Linked DNA regions of Homo sapiens. The protein of the gene in region 3 purifies or fractionates together with the protein of the main gene of each other region. This does not show direct contact. Each region holds a gene or a part of one and is shown on either strand. Other genes may lie near its edges. The genes, in order: HELB, PODXL and SLC46A2.

Evidence for each region.
Region 1: the proteins of SLC46A2 (region 3) and HELB purify together in Homo sapiens (affinity purification with mass spectrometry; one large-scale study listed by BioGRID and IntAct). This does not show direct contact.
Region 2: the proteins of SLC46A2 (region 3) and PODXL purify together in Homo sapiens (affinity purification with mass spectrometry; one large-scale study listed by BioGRID and IntAct). This does not show direct contact.

The regions. Positions count from the first base shown.
Region 1 is NC_000012.12:66,319,385-66,323,035, reverse strand, and holds part of HELB (DNA helicase B), read right to left. Parts: intron 1,089-3,651; coding exon 1,007-1,088; intron 313-1,006; coding exon 253-312; intron 1-252.
Region 2 is NC_000007.14:131,550,023-131,553,673, forward strand, and holds part of PODXL (podocalyxin isoform 1 precursor), read right to left. Parts: intron 1-3,651. UniProt on the Homo sapiens protein: Involved in the regulation of both adhesion and cell morphology and cancer progression. Functions as an anti-adhesive molecule that maintains an open filtration pathway between neighboring foot processes in the podocyte by charge repulsion.
Region 3 is NC_000009.12:112,888,678-112,892,428, forward strand, and holds the start of SLC46A2 (solute carrier family 46 member 2), read right to left. Parts: upstream 2,200-3,751; 5' UTR 2,005-2,199; coding exon 876-2,004; intron 1-875.

The DNA.
Region 1 (3,651 bases), on a different chromosome or scaffold from region 3:
GGCTGCCAAGGTTGAAACCAAAAAAATTTCACTCCTAATTTTTCTTCTTATTCCACTCATTACTAAAATGTCAATTCCCAAGGATGTATTCATATATTGTATTTAATTGAAGAGATCATTCTATTTCACAAATGGGAAAAAAAACTATTTTGGGAATATATGTAAATAGGTGACAAACATCAAAGCAAAAAAAAAAACCAGCAAATCGAAGAAGGACTGTCCTTAAAAGTTTCAGTTCTCGAAGACACTCACTTGGTGAGGTGGCCTGTGTAGTGTTTGCAGCAGCAGTCATTAATTAGATCACAGTCTTGCCTGAAACACACGAAAATGCAGGGGTCACCTTAATGGTCTCTGCTACAGGTTTACTTTTGTTATCAGCAATTATGACATACTAGATTCTACAAAACGTTTCCAAGACTTTCTCCAGGAAATAGTATTTTTCTACTTTTTATCTTTTTTTTTTTTTTTTTGAGACAGCGTCTCGCTCTTGTTGCCCAGGCTGGAGTGCAATGGCGTGCTCTCGGCTCACTGCAACCTCCACCTCCCGGGTTCAAGCAATTCTCCTGCCTCAGCCTCCCAAGTAGCTGGGATTACAGGTGTGTGCCATGACGCCTGGCTAATTTTTGTATTTTTAGTAGGCAGGAGGGGTTTCACCATTTTGGCCAGGCTGGTCTCAAACTCCTGACCTCAAGTGATCTGCCTGCCTCGGCCTCCCAAAGTGCTGGGATTACAGGTGTGAGCCACCAAGCCCAGCCTGTATTTTTTATCTTAGCATAAGCTTTTGTTCCATTCAGAGTCCCTATGAGCTTCTAAATATAATACTTGGTGGAAAGAGCTCTGTTTAGAAAGCGCCCTCTGCCATGTCTAACAAAGACATACCCCAAAATAAGAAAGAGAATTAACAGTGATGAAATATTGGAATCTCCCATCCAAACAGGATCTATATTAATAAGTTATGAGATTTAAAAGCTAGATTAAAAACATTAAAATATTATAAATGCTTTACCTTCTAAATGCAATAAATTGTGATGTTTTTGCATTTTGTAAGTTATTTTCTTGTAGTAAAGTTTTAACTGCAGAATATAAACCTAATAATTCAAGAGAAAAAAGTTAACACAGCAAATCACCAAATTATAACACAATTTCTATGAAGAAACTAATCTGGGATTCCTGCTAAGGGCCCTGGGAAAATATCTCACCAAATGGAATACAAGTTCACCATGGGAATGTCAACCTCATTCCCCACATCAGCCAGGGCAATAGGAAAGAGAATGGAAAGAAGGGTTCCAAGACAACCCACCCTCAACAGAGAGGTCAACCCCTGGCCAGGACAGTTCCCCATTTGTAATAGACTCACTGTGTATTTGCTGATGGTTTATGAACACTGAATTTAAGAAATAAACAAGAGTACAAAGTGTGTAACAGCATGACTAATGTAAAACTTCCTGTTTTAAGTCCTTGTGATCATGTTAGTAATCAGTTAGAACTTGACAATATACAGGCCTTATATGTTATATCACTTAATATGCAGGACACCCACATGTGGTAGGTGCTCTTATATTCAGAGCTGATATTCAACTGGCACACACTTGTATAAAACATAGCAATACTTCCATATTAGCTGGAAAACAGCCACTCCCCTAACAACACAATGCTCTACTCCCCACCCCAACCATCTCTTTCCTTCTCCCCAGACCTCCCCATGATCTAGCAACTAAAAGGTTAACCCTGGCATAGCGGGGGCATCCATTCCAATGGTGCTCATGCCCTACAGCCATTGGGTAGTCTGACTTCTGATGACATCCATATTATGAATGTGAAAACTAAGGCTCATGGAAGTACAAGCATTTTCCCATGTATGTTTCCCTAATAGCAGATGAATCACAAGGGAATGAAAAAGCCCATGCCTTGTGATGCCCTGCTCTGGGAAGACAAACTTAGCTGCCTGCTGAGCCCTTCATTTTTCAGATGAAGGGAAGATTACCGCTAGAAAACAGCCAAGACTCAGCTCACCCTCAACCAACCCCTGGCTTCCGGAACAGGAATTTCCAAAGGTCTCCCAGCATACTGTTCTTTTTAACATGTACAGGATGGCACTGTTCCATACCTTTTTTCACTTTCCCCACATCTTGCAGATCAATATGTACAACGTATTTTATTGATTCTAAGATATACATTTTTCTCACATTTTAGCAACTCTGAAATTCTAGCCCAAATATGAATCCTGTCTTAGGTCTTAGTACTTTGTAATAATGGGCATAATTTACTTAATAACTTAATAATTAGTGAAAAAGTACTATATGCTTCCTAAGGAATATTTACTCAATTTCCTTGAAGAAGAGACTAATTTTCCAGCAGAAGTTTTTAATTTAGAAAAGCAGTATCAGGTAAGCTCTGCTACCAGTCTAAAATGGACAATTTTTTTTAAAAGTACATTCTCATTAATGCAAAGAATGGGTACCAGAAATAAAACCAACAATATTTTAGGTAGAATTAAGTGAAGTGGCAAAGAAAGAGATCTATTTAACTAAGTCTCATTTTCCTCACCTGTAAATAGGACCTACTATTAACTAAGCTGTGAAAAGAAACATTAGCTATTAATTATTTAACATACATTTCTAAGTCACAAAACAATATGCAGCTTATAAACCAATTTATGTAAAACTGAAATAAATATGATTGTATATGGATATAATAAGGTTAAAAGGATAAACACCAAGCTTTTACTATGTGTGTGACCTTAATGGGATTGTCCTGGGGGAAGAAGAGAAAGGAAAATTACCAGGGAACATTAATTCTTACTTCAAACATTCCTGTATCATTGACTTTTTTTTTTAAAGAGTATAAATTGTTTCTCAAATCATTGGCCCCCACAATCTAAAGCAATCTTGCAACAAATTTAATCAGTCACTGGTAAGTATTTAGTTAAGTTTACTTGATTCTTTGTACTCTGATGTTTGAAAATATATTTGTTCACTTTTTAATTATCTGTTTCCCACACTAGAATGAAAGCACAATAACCTCAGGGACAATTTTTTTTTAATCTTTTCCTCTGCTTTATCTATTGTATTGTATCTAGTATATAACAGGAGTTCAATAAGTATTTGCTGAATGAAAAATAGAAAAAAAAAGTTTCTACAATAAACAAAAAAAACCAAAAAAGCACATTATAGAACACTATGTATGATCGCATTTATTTAAATACATTGTTGTAACATGTAAATGATCACTAACCCACGGGAAGTGAGACTGGGGACACACACTAAGGGGAAAAGGCTGACAGATGAAGTTGTATATCATTACTTTCACATACACAGTGAAAGTGGTTAAGTGGGAAGGATATACCTTTGAGAACAGTGGCAACTACAAAAAGTCCTCAGTAATAATAGTTTAAACCTTTACTAATTCAATTTTGAGAAAACCATTACACCATTTTTAAAAGGTTTGCTAGGTGAGTTTATAATGAAAATAAAGATCAACAGATAAGTTCAATCTATTTAAATAAATTCACTTGCAATAGCTAATTTAATAACATCTATTAGTCACAACAAACTGACATTTATAGAGTGTCTCACACTGATGAATGCCCTCAACCCTCGTAATAGCTCCACAGGGAGTTCCACTATGGTTCCCATTTTACAAATGGTTAAG
Region 2 (3,651 bases), on a different chromosome or scaffold from region 3:
CTTGGGATGCGGGAGATGTGGGCAAGGGCCACTGATGAATCTGCAGCTGAACGCTGCATTTTGTGCAGCCAATTATCCCGCAAACATTTCTTAACCACCTATTTGGCTAGAGGCTGTGGAAATGACAGGGGGTCCTCAGCCAGTGGGCCAGTGGCAAACACCGACATATTTAGGCACAATGCATGGTGGCCAGTGCTATGGCACAGTATTCCAGGCACCCTTAGGAGTCTAACTCTTAAATAGCAACATGGCCCCAAGCCTCAATTTACCCTTATGGTAGAGGGGTAGGGAAAGAGATGTGGGCACAGTATAGGTTTGTCACCATCCTAAAGTCCTTTTTAAAGAGGTTTTTCGCCAGGCATGATGGCTCATGCCTGTAATCCTAGCACTGGGAGGCTGAGGTGGGCAGATCACTCAAGGTTAGGCGTTCAAGACCAGCCTGGCCAACATGGTGAGACCCTATTTCTACAGAAATTAGCTGGGTGTGGTGGCGCATGCCTGTAGTCCCAGCTACTCAGGAGGCTGAGGCAGGAGGATGTCTTGAATCTGGGAGGCAGAGGTTGCAGCAAGCCACCTGCACTCCACCCTTGGCAACACAGCGAGATTCCATCTCAGAACAAAAAGAAGTAAAATAAAAAAATATATAAAGGGGATTTGGTGAGTTTTTCCAATTCCCAGGAGGGAATCAGCACTGAAAGGGCTGAGTTCTATTCTGGTATTTACAGCTGACACGTATGCGCACATGCACACACATACATGCACGCACACACACACACACGCACACACACGTGTGCACACCCACCTCCTGGAAAGCTATTTATTGAGAGTCACTGGGAACTTGGGCGAATGAACCCACCTCCCTGGCCTGCAATCCCCCATTTGAAACAAGCAGGTTGTAGTAGATGATTTCCAGAAGGCTCCCCAGCTCTAGAATTCTGTGTCCTATGATTTTCTGGCTCATTTAGAAGTGGTGTGGAAAGTACCCTTTGCCAACCGAATTCCACATTGCACAGCCTGCAGGCTGCCGACTCGAAGCAGTCATATGGCAAATGTTACTGCAAATATGAAGAGGCTCCTTTAAGGGATCCTCTGTGTCAATTTTCTTGAAGGCTTTTCTTATAGAGAATGCCCCCGTCATTTGGCCTGTGCAGGGTAGGAGTCACCATCCCAGATCTGCTACATCACTTGATTTCTTAACAGCCCCATAGAGCAGACAGGATACATGATAAAGAGAGGCCCATCCAACTTAGCCCATGTTCCTGGGTCCGGGACAGGAAACCCCACCAGCTGAGCTCCCTGCCCTGCTTCATGGCCAGTGGGTGCAAATAGGAAATGAGCCCAGAGCTGGGTAAAGAGCTCCTGGCTGAGGTCCAGTGAAAGTGTCCAGGCAGGCTCAGGCTGGTGGGTAGGGATGGGCAGGGCAATGCCATTCTCTTTCTCTGATTATGTAGGAATGACTTCCATTTCAGCTAGAGCAAAGCTTGCATTCAGCAGCCCTGAAGAGGGCCTCTGCCTCAAAGGGTGTGAAGAAGCAGCACTTCCTGGAATAGGGGTCATCTACGTCCCCTCCTGAGAAGTCCAGTGAACTGGAGACACGATTCCTCCCACTTCCCTTAAGAGTGAAGGGCTCTGAGCTGGGTGCGGTGGCTCATGCCTGTGATCCCAGCACTTTGGGAGGCTGAGGCGGGCGGATCATGAGGTCAGGAGATCGAGACCTTCCTGGCTAACATGGTGAATCCCCGTCCCTACTAAAAAATACAGAAAATTAGCCGGGCGTGGAGGTGGGCGCCTGTAGTCCTAGCTATTCGGGAGGCTGAGGCAGGAGAATGGCGTGAACCCGGGAGGTGGAGCTTGTAGTGAGCTGAGATCACGCCACTGCAGTCCAGCCTGGGTGACAGAACGAGACTCCATCTCAAAAAAAAAAAAAACAGTGAAGGGCTCTGAGCTAAGTGCTGAGCCAGCTCCACAGCAGCCACCAGCATCACAGGGGTCACCAGCCCCACAGAAGCCTTAACCTTCAGCAGTTGCTCCCACCAGCTCTAGCTGCTGGAGAACAAGCCCACTGGCCAGACATCCCTTCCCAGGATGCAAACTCCCCTTCCAGGGAGCCTAAAGCCAGGGCTGAAGCCGGTTCCCCTCAGTTCTACAGTCCAGAGTATCCCAAGCGACCGCTCAGCGCTGGGTGCTGGGCTGGGCCCTGGAGGTGGTGATAAGTATGTTGTTGGCCCCTCGAGGGCCTCACCGCATGGTGGAGGAGACACACAGATCATGGAACACACTTTGGTTCTCCCTAGGAAACCAGGGAAGGCATCTCAGAGATGATGCCTGAGGGTGGCTAGGAGTGGCTCTTCCCCTCCCTCCCTGCAAGGGGGGGAATTCTAACCACAGGGAGTCTAGTCCCCTTCCCCTCTCAGCTTTCCACAGGGCAGTGGTGTTAAAACCCCAGGCAGCACCCTCCTCTCCTTTCAAACATGGGTTCCTGAGGAAAACCAGATGGGGGACAGCCTCCATGCCTCTTCCCCCACCTTCTCTAGGCCTGGGGGACACCCTGAGGACCCTCCTGGGCAGGCCACGCTCCCCTCCTCAGCCCTTCTCTGGACGACCACACTCCAAAGCTCTGGCCACACTGACACCAGGTGCTTTTGGGTCTGCCCTTGAATGGCTGGGCTCCTAACCCCGCCATGTCCAGCTCGCTCCTGCCTCAGATCCTGTCCCAAGCTGCACCATGCTGGGAACACCCACATTCCCCCACCCCAGCCCTGGGCACCTTGTTTTTTTCCTTGAGTCAGGGTCTCCCTCTGTTGCCCAGGCTGGAGAGCAGTGGCGTGATCTTGGCTCACTGCAACCTCTGTCTCCCACGTTCAAGCAATTCTCCTACCTCAGTCTCCTGAGTAGCTGGGACTACAGGCGTGTGCCACTACCATGCCCAGCTAATTTTTTTGTCTTTTTAGTACAGTCTTACTAGGTTGCCCAGGCTGGTCTTGAACTCCTAGGCTCAAGTGATCCTCCCACCTTGGCCTCTCAAATTTGCTGGGATTCCAGGCGTGAGCAGCCACACCCTGCCACCGTGGAATTTTCTCTCCAGTTCTGAGAGCTAATCTCCCCAAAGCCTCAATGACTCCATCTCAAGAACCACCATCACAGACTCCCCGACCCTAATCTGCATCTCCCCTACACACTACAATTCATAGAGCCTCAGCCACATTAGGAAACACTGACCCTTTTAATTTTAAAATCCCTATGTGAAAACCCCACCTCCTTCAGGAAGCTTTCTCCAGACCTCCAGACCACCCCTTCCAAATCTTATACTCTTTTCCATATGCCTCCCTCTCCCACAGAGTGGCACTGGGGCTTCAGTTTTTATTATCATATATCCACTGATACCCACAAACATTGGCAGGATCCCAATGCCTGGGGTCCCTTAAACCCACCAGGTGCTCAATATATATGCTTACTAATCATCATAGCTATTTTTTGAGTGTTGATCCTGAGTTGGGCGTAAAGCCAAGCCCATGATATATATACTCGCTCATCTTCATAGCAACCCACAAGGTAGGGCTGTTATTACTTTATAGATGAAGAAACTGAGGTTCAGGGAGGTCCACTATTTTGTCCATGGTCATGCACATCTCTCTGACCCAAAGTCTGAGT
Region 3 (3,751 bases):
CTTTCTGCTTATAGTTGTCTGACTTGTGCCCTCAGATGGAAACTTAATGCTGCTTCCTTGGGGAATTTATTACATTGGTTGTGGAAGGCATTTACCGAGTATTTTAATGCATTTTTAAAAAGCCCTTGCTTGACTCCAAATGATTTTAATTAAGGGATCTTTTCAGTAGAATTACTTGAAATTCCACTCCTCCACGTTTTTTTTTTTTTGTTTGTTTGTTTTTTTTTTTTTGAGACAGAGTCTTGCTCTATCACCCAGGCTAGAGTGCAGTGGCACAATCTCGGCTCACTACAACCGCTGCCTCTTGGGTTCAAGTGATTCTTGTGCCTCAGCTTCCTGAGTAGCTAGGACTACAGGTGTGCACCACCACACCTGGCTAATTTTTATGCTTTTGGTAGAGATGAGGTTTTGCTATATTGGCCAGGCTGGTCTTGAACTCCTGGCCTCAAGTGATCCTCCCACCTCCCGCCCAAAGTGCTGGGATTACAGGCGAGAGCCTCTGCGCTCGGCCTTTGAAATTCCATCCCTTTAAAATGGCAAGGGGGTGTGGGGGAAGAAACCCAATTCCATCTCCTCTGTTGAAGGCCATCCTGAAGCCTCCCCTACTGACTCCAGGTACCACTGACCACACCTCCTTGACTGCCCAGAACCATGAACACCACTCTGGTAACATTTCATTCTCAATATAGATAATTAATTAACAATACATTACAGATAAACTCAGGGGCATATAATCTTGTGTCCCTTGTGCCTCCTAGGTAGCAGGTTCAATCCCTGGTGCTGAGCTAGGACACCCAGACCATGGCATCCCTGGTGTCAGCCCCATGATGCAGAGGGCTAGCAATGTCCTGCCTCCTCAAGAATGACAGACTCACCAATATAGAACATGTATGTCTCTTTCACAAAAGCCAAGAGGAGGGCTCCTGACCCAAAGGAGACCATCCCAATCATGATCATGGTGGTGTCCCGAAAGCAGCGGGAGAAGACCAGGACACCCAGGAAGCTGGTGATGAAGATGGTGTACCCTGCAGCCATACCATAGCCCACCTGCACTTGGTTCCAACCGAGAGGCTCCCTCAGCACAAAAAGAGGGATCACGTCCACTGTGCCCACCACCGCCAGGTCATATATGATAGCACCCACAAAGAGCAAGGCAATGGTGGTTTTATGGGGTTTTGCTTTTCCAGGAGATGGAGGGTGCCCCACTGCATACTGTTGGTCCAACTGATCAGGATCCAGAGTGCGGTATGTGCCAACCGTGCCAGACACGGTATCCACGGCGGGGAGCTCCTGGCTGGGTTTGGCCACCGACTCAGGGACCTTTAGCACCAAAAGGCTGTAGAGCAGGGCAAACGAGGCACAGCTCACGCTGCAGGCCGTCAGTATCAGGCCCTGCCCAGAGTGCCCAGCCATCTGCTTGAAGAGATGCCCGGAAGCCATGCTCCCGCAGAACCCCGCCAAGCCCAGCATCAGGTCAATGAGGATGAGGCGCACAGAGCGGCGGCCCTCGGAGGAGCCCAGCGATCCCAGCGCCATGACCCCGGACCAGAAGGCGGAGAAGCCGCCGAATAGCCCGTTCAGCGCCGCCGCCCCGTACAGCACCTCCACTGGCCAGTCCAGCAGCACCTTGAGCAGCAGCCCGAGGCGGGAGAGCAGGAAGCCCAGCAGCGACATGCAGATGGAGATCTTTCGGTGGTAGCGGTCGCTGAGCCATCCCAGCCCGTAGGCGGACAGCAGGGGGGACAGGCCCACCACAAGGTTGTAGATAATGTAGAAATTGGAGATGGCTCTCTGCTGTTGGTCCTCTAGAGCCCCCCGGGGCGATGGGCTGGCACTGTGGTTGGAGGAGCCTCCGGTTCCGTAGGACGCCTTCACCACGAGGAGTAGCCCCGCATCGTAGAGGGAGGCAGCCACCTGGGACGAGGCCACCACGGGCTCAACCCAGGTCCTCGGGTGGAAGCGAGGCAGGTGGCCCCTCCGCGGGCAGGTGACCTCGGGGCTCATGTGACCTCTCTGATGGGGATCGAAGGGCTTTCTGGCTGCAGTGACAAGGATATGCTCCCAAATTCGGCTGCTACGGCTGCTCAGGTTTCAGTCCCGGAGCGCGAGTGTGCTCCGTGCGCCGGGAGCGCGAGTGTGCTCCGTGCGCCGGGAGCGCGCCGGCCAGTGGCGAGCAGAGCCAGGGCACGCAGCGCCTGTGACAGCAGCCCGCCCAGCAGCCGAGTGACCTCCCGAGTGACTCCTCCTCAGGCCAGAAAAGGCCGCGCTCCACCCTGCCCTCGCCACCTCAGGCAGAGTAGGACTGGCGACAGTCCAGGGAAGCCAGGCGCGGGGGAGCGCACCGCGAGTGCTGGCTCCTGGCGCCAGCACCCCCGGGGCCGACGGGTCACGCTGCTCCTGTGAGCGCGGCCGCCTGACGGGGCCGAATTTCCCCACAGCCAGGCGTGCGTGCCCGGACCTCCCGCGGATCTCTGCGGACCCCCCACCACCGGGGCAGGGGCTGGAAGGAAGCTCCCCAGGACTGGCTCAGGGAGCGTTTCCAAATTCTCCCATCCCAGGAAGGCAGGTTTGCGCGAGGGGTGGGACGCCTAGGATTCTGCCTAGGATAAGTATTGGGGTGTGAAGTTTTATTTATAGATTTAATGCAACAGGGGCCCATGTGCTATAGGCAGCTGGGTAGCACTTTGAGAGAAGTAAAAACTTGGGAGCCGCCAGGTCCAGGCTCTTCTCCAAGCCAAAGGCCTCTTAGAGAAGAGTCCTGTTTGGTACACCTGCATTGGTGGGCCTAGTGCCTGGGCCTTGTCTAGAAGGCTCCTGCCCCAAACCCCAGGGCCAAGGGAGAGACGGCAAGATCCTGCCAGCCCTAGATGTCCCCCTAGATGATAAAACTGGACTCTTGGGCAGGGGCTTGAGCCCACTGGAAGGGGCAGAGTCACCAGGGTCCTCATCTGAATCAAGTGCCCAGGTCCCTTTCTGCTTGTTAGTAGTCACTCTTCTTCTGTCTGTGGGCTCACTCCCCTGGGCTGGGCTGAGACCTCCACTTCCCAGGTGGCCTCGCTTCTTGTTTAGGTACATACTTCTGCAAAGAAAACCAGGGTGATGGATGGTGCAGGGGCCAAAATGTACCACAGAGCATGACCTGTTCCATGGTCAGCCCCAGGGATGGAGACTCAAAGCACACAGCCTTCCTGTCCCTCTACCCACAATCCACTATAGCTCTGGCAGCGTGGATGATCAGGAACCCAAAGACATGAAAGGGAGACGCAGGTATGCAGGGAGAGCTTAAAATGCCACATGGATAATATACTCATGTAGGGAGTAGGGACTGGATTCCAAATGATTTAGTGTATCTATGTGCTCTTTTGGTAGTGTTTAGGTGGGCTATAATCTCCTCCCCTGCCACCCTCAACCTCCAGCATGGCCCAGCCTCCTCGTGTCTAGGCCCAGACGACTCTGCCTTCTGCAAAGAGAAAGACACACCTAGTCTTGCCCTTCAAGATGTGCCCCATGGATCTGGCCCAGCAGCCCATTTCCTTCTTCCTCCCCCTCACCTAGGGTCACCTTGGGAGATACATGTTTCACCCAACCCAAGCCTGGCTCTCCCACTCCATTCTTAATTTTTCCAGAGGCTACAGCAAACAGTCCAAACACCTTGATCCTATGAGGGGTGGAGACTCCAGTGAATGAGTAGGTTATGGGGCCAGGTGGTATTCCACAATCAAATATGGCCATGAGAACAACCTGACCCAGA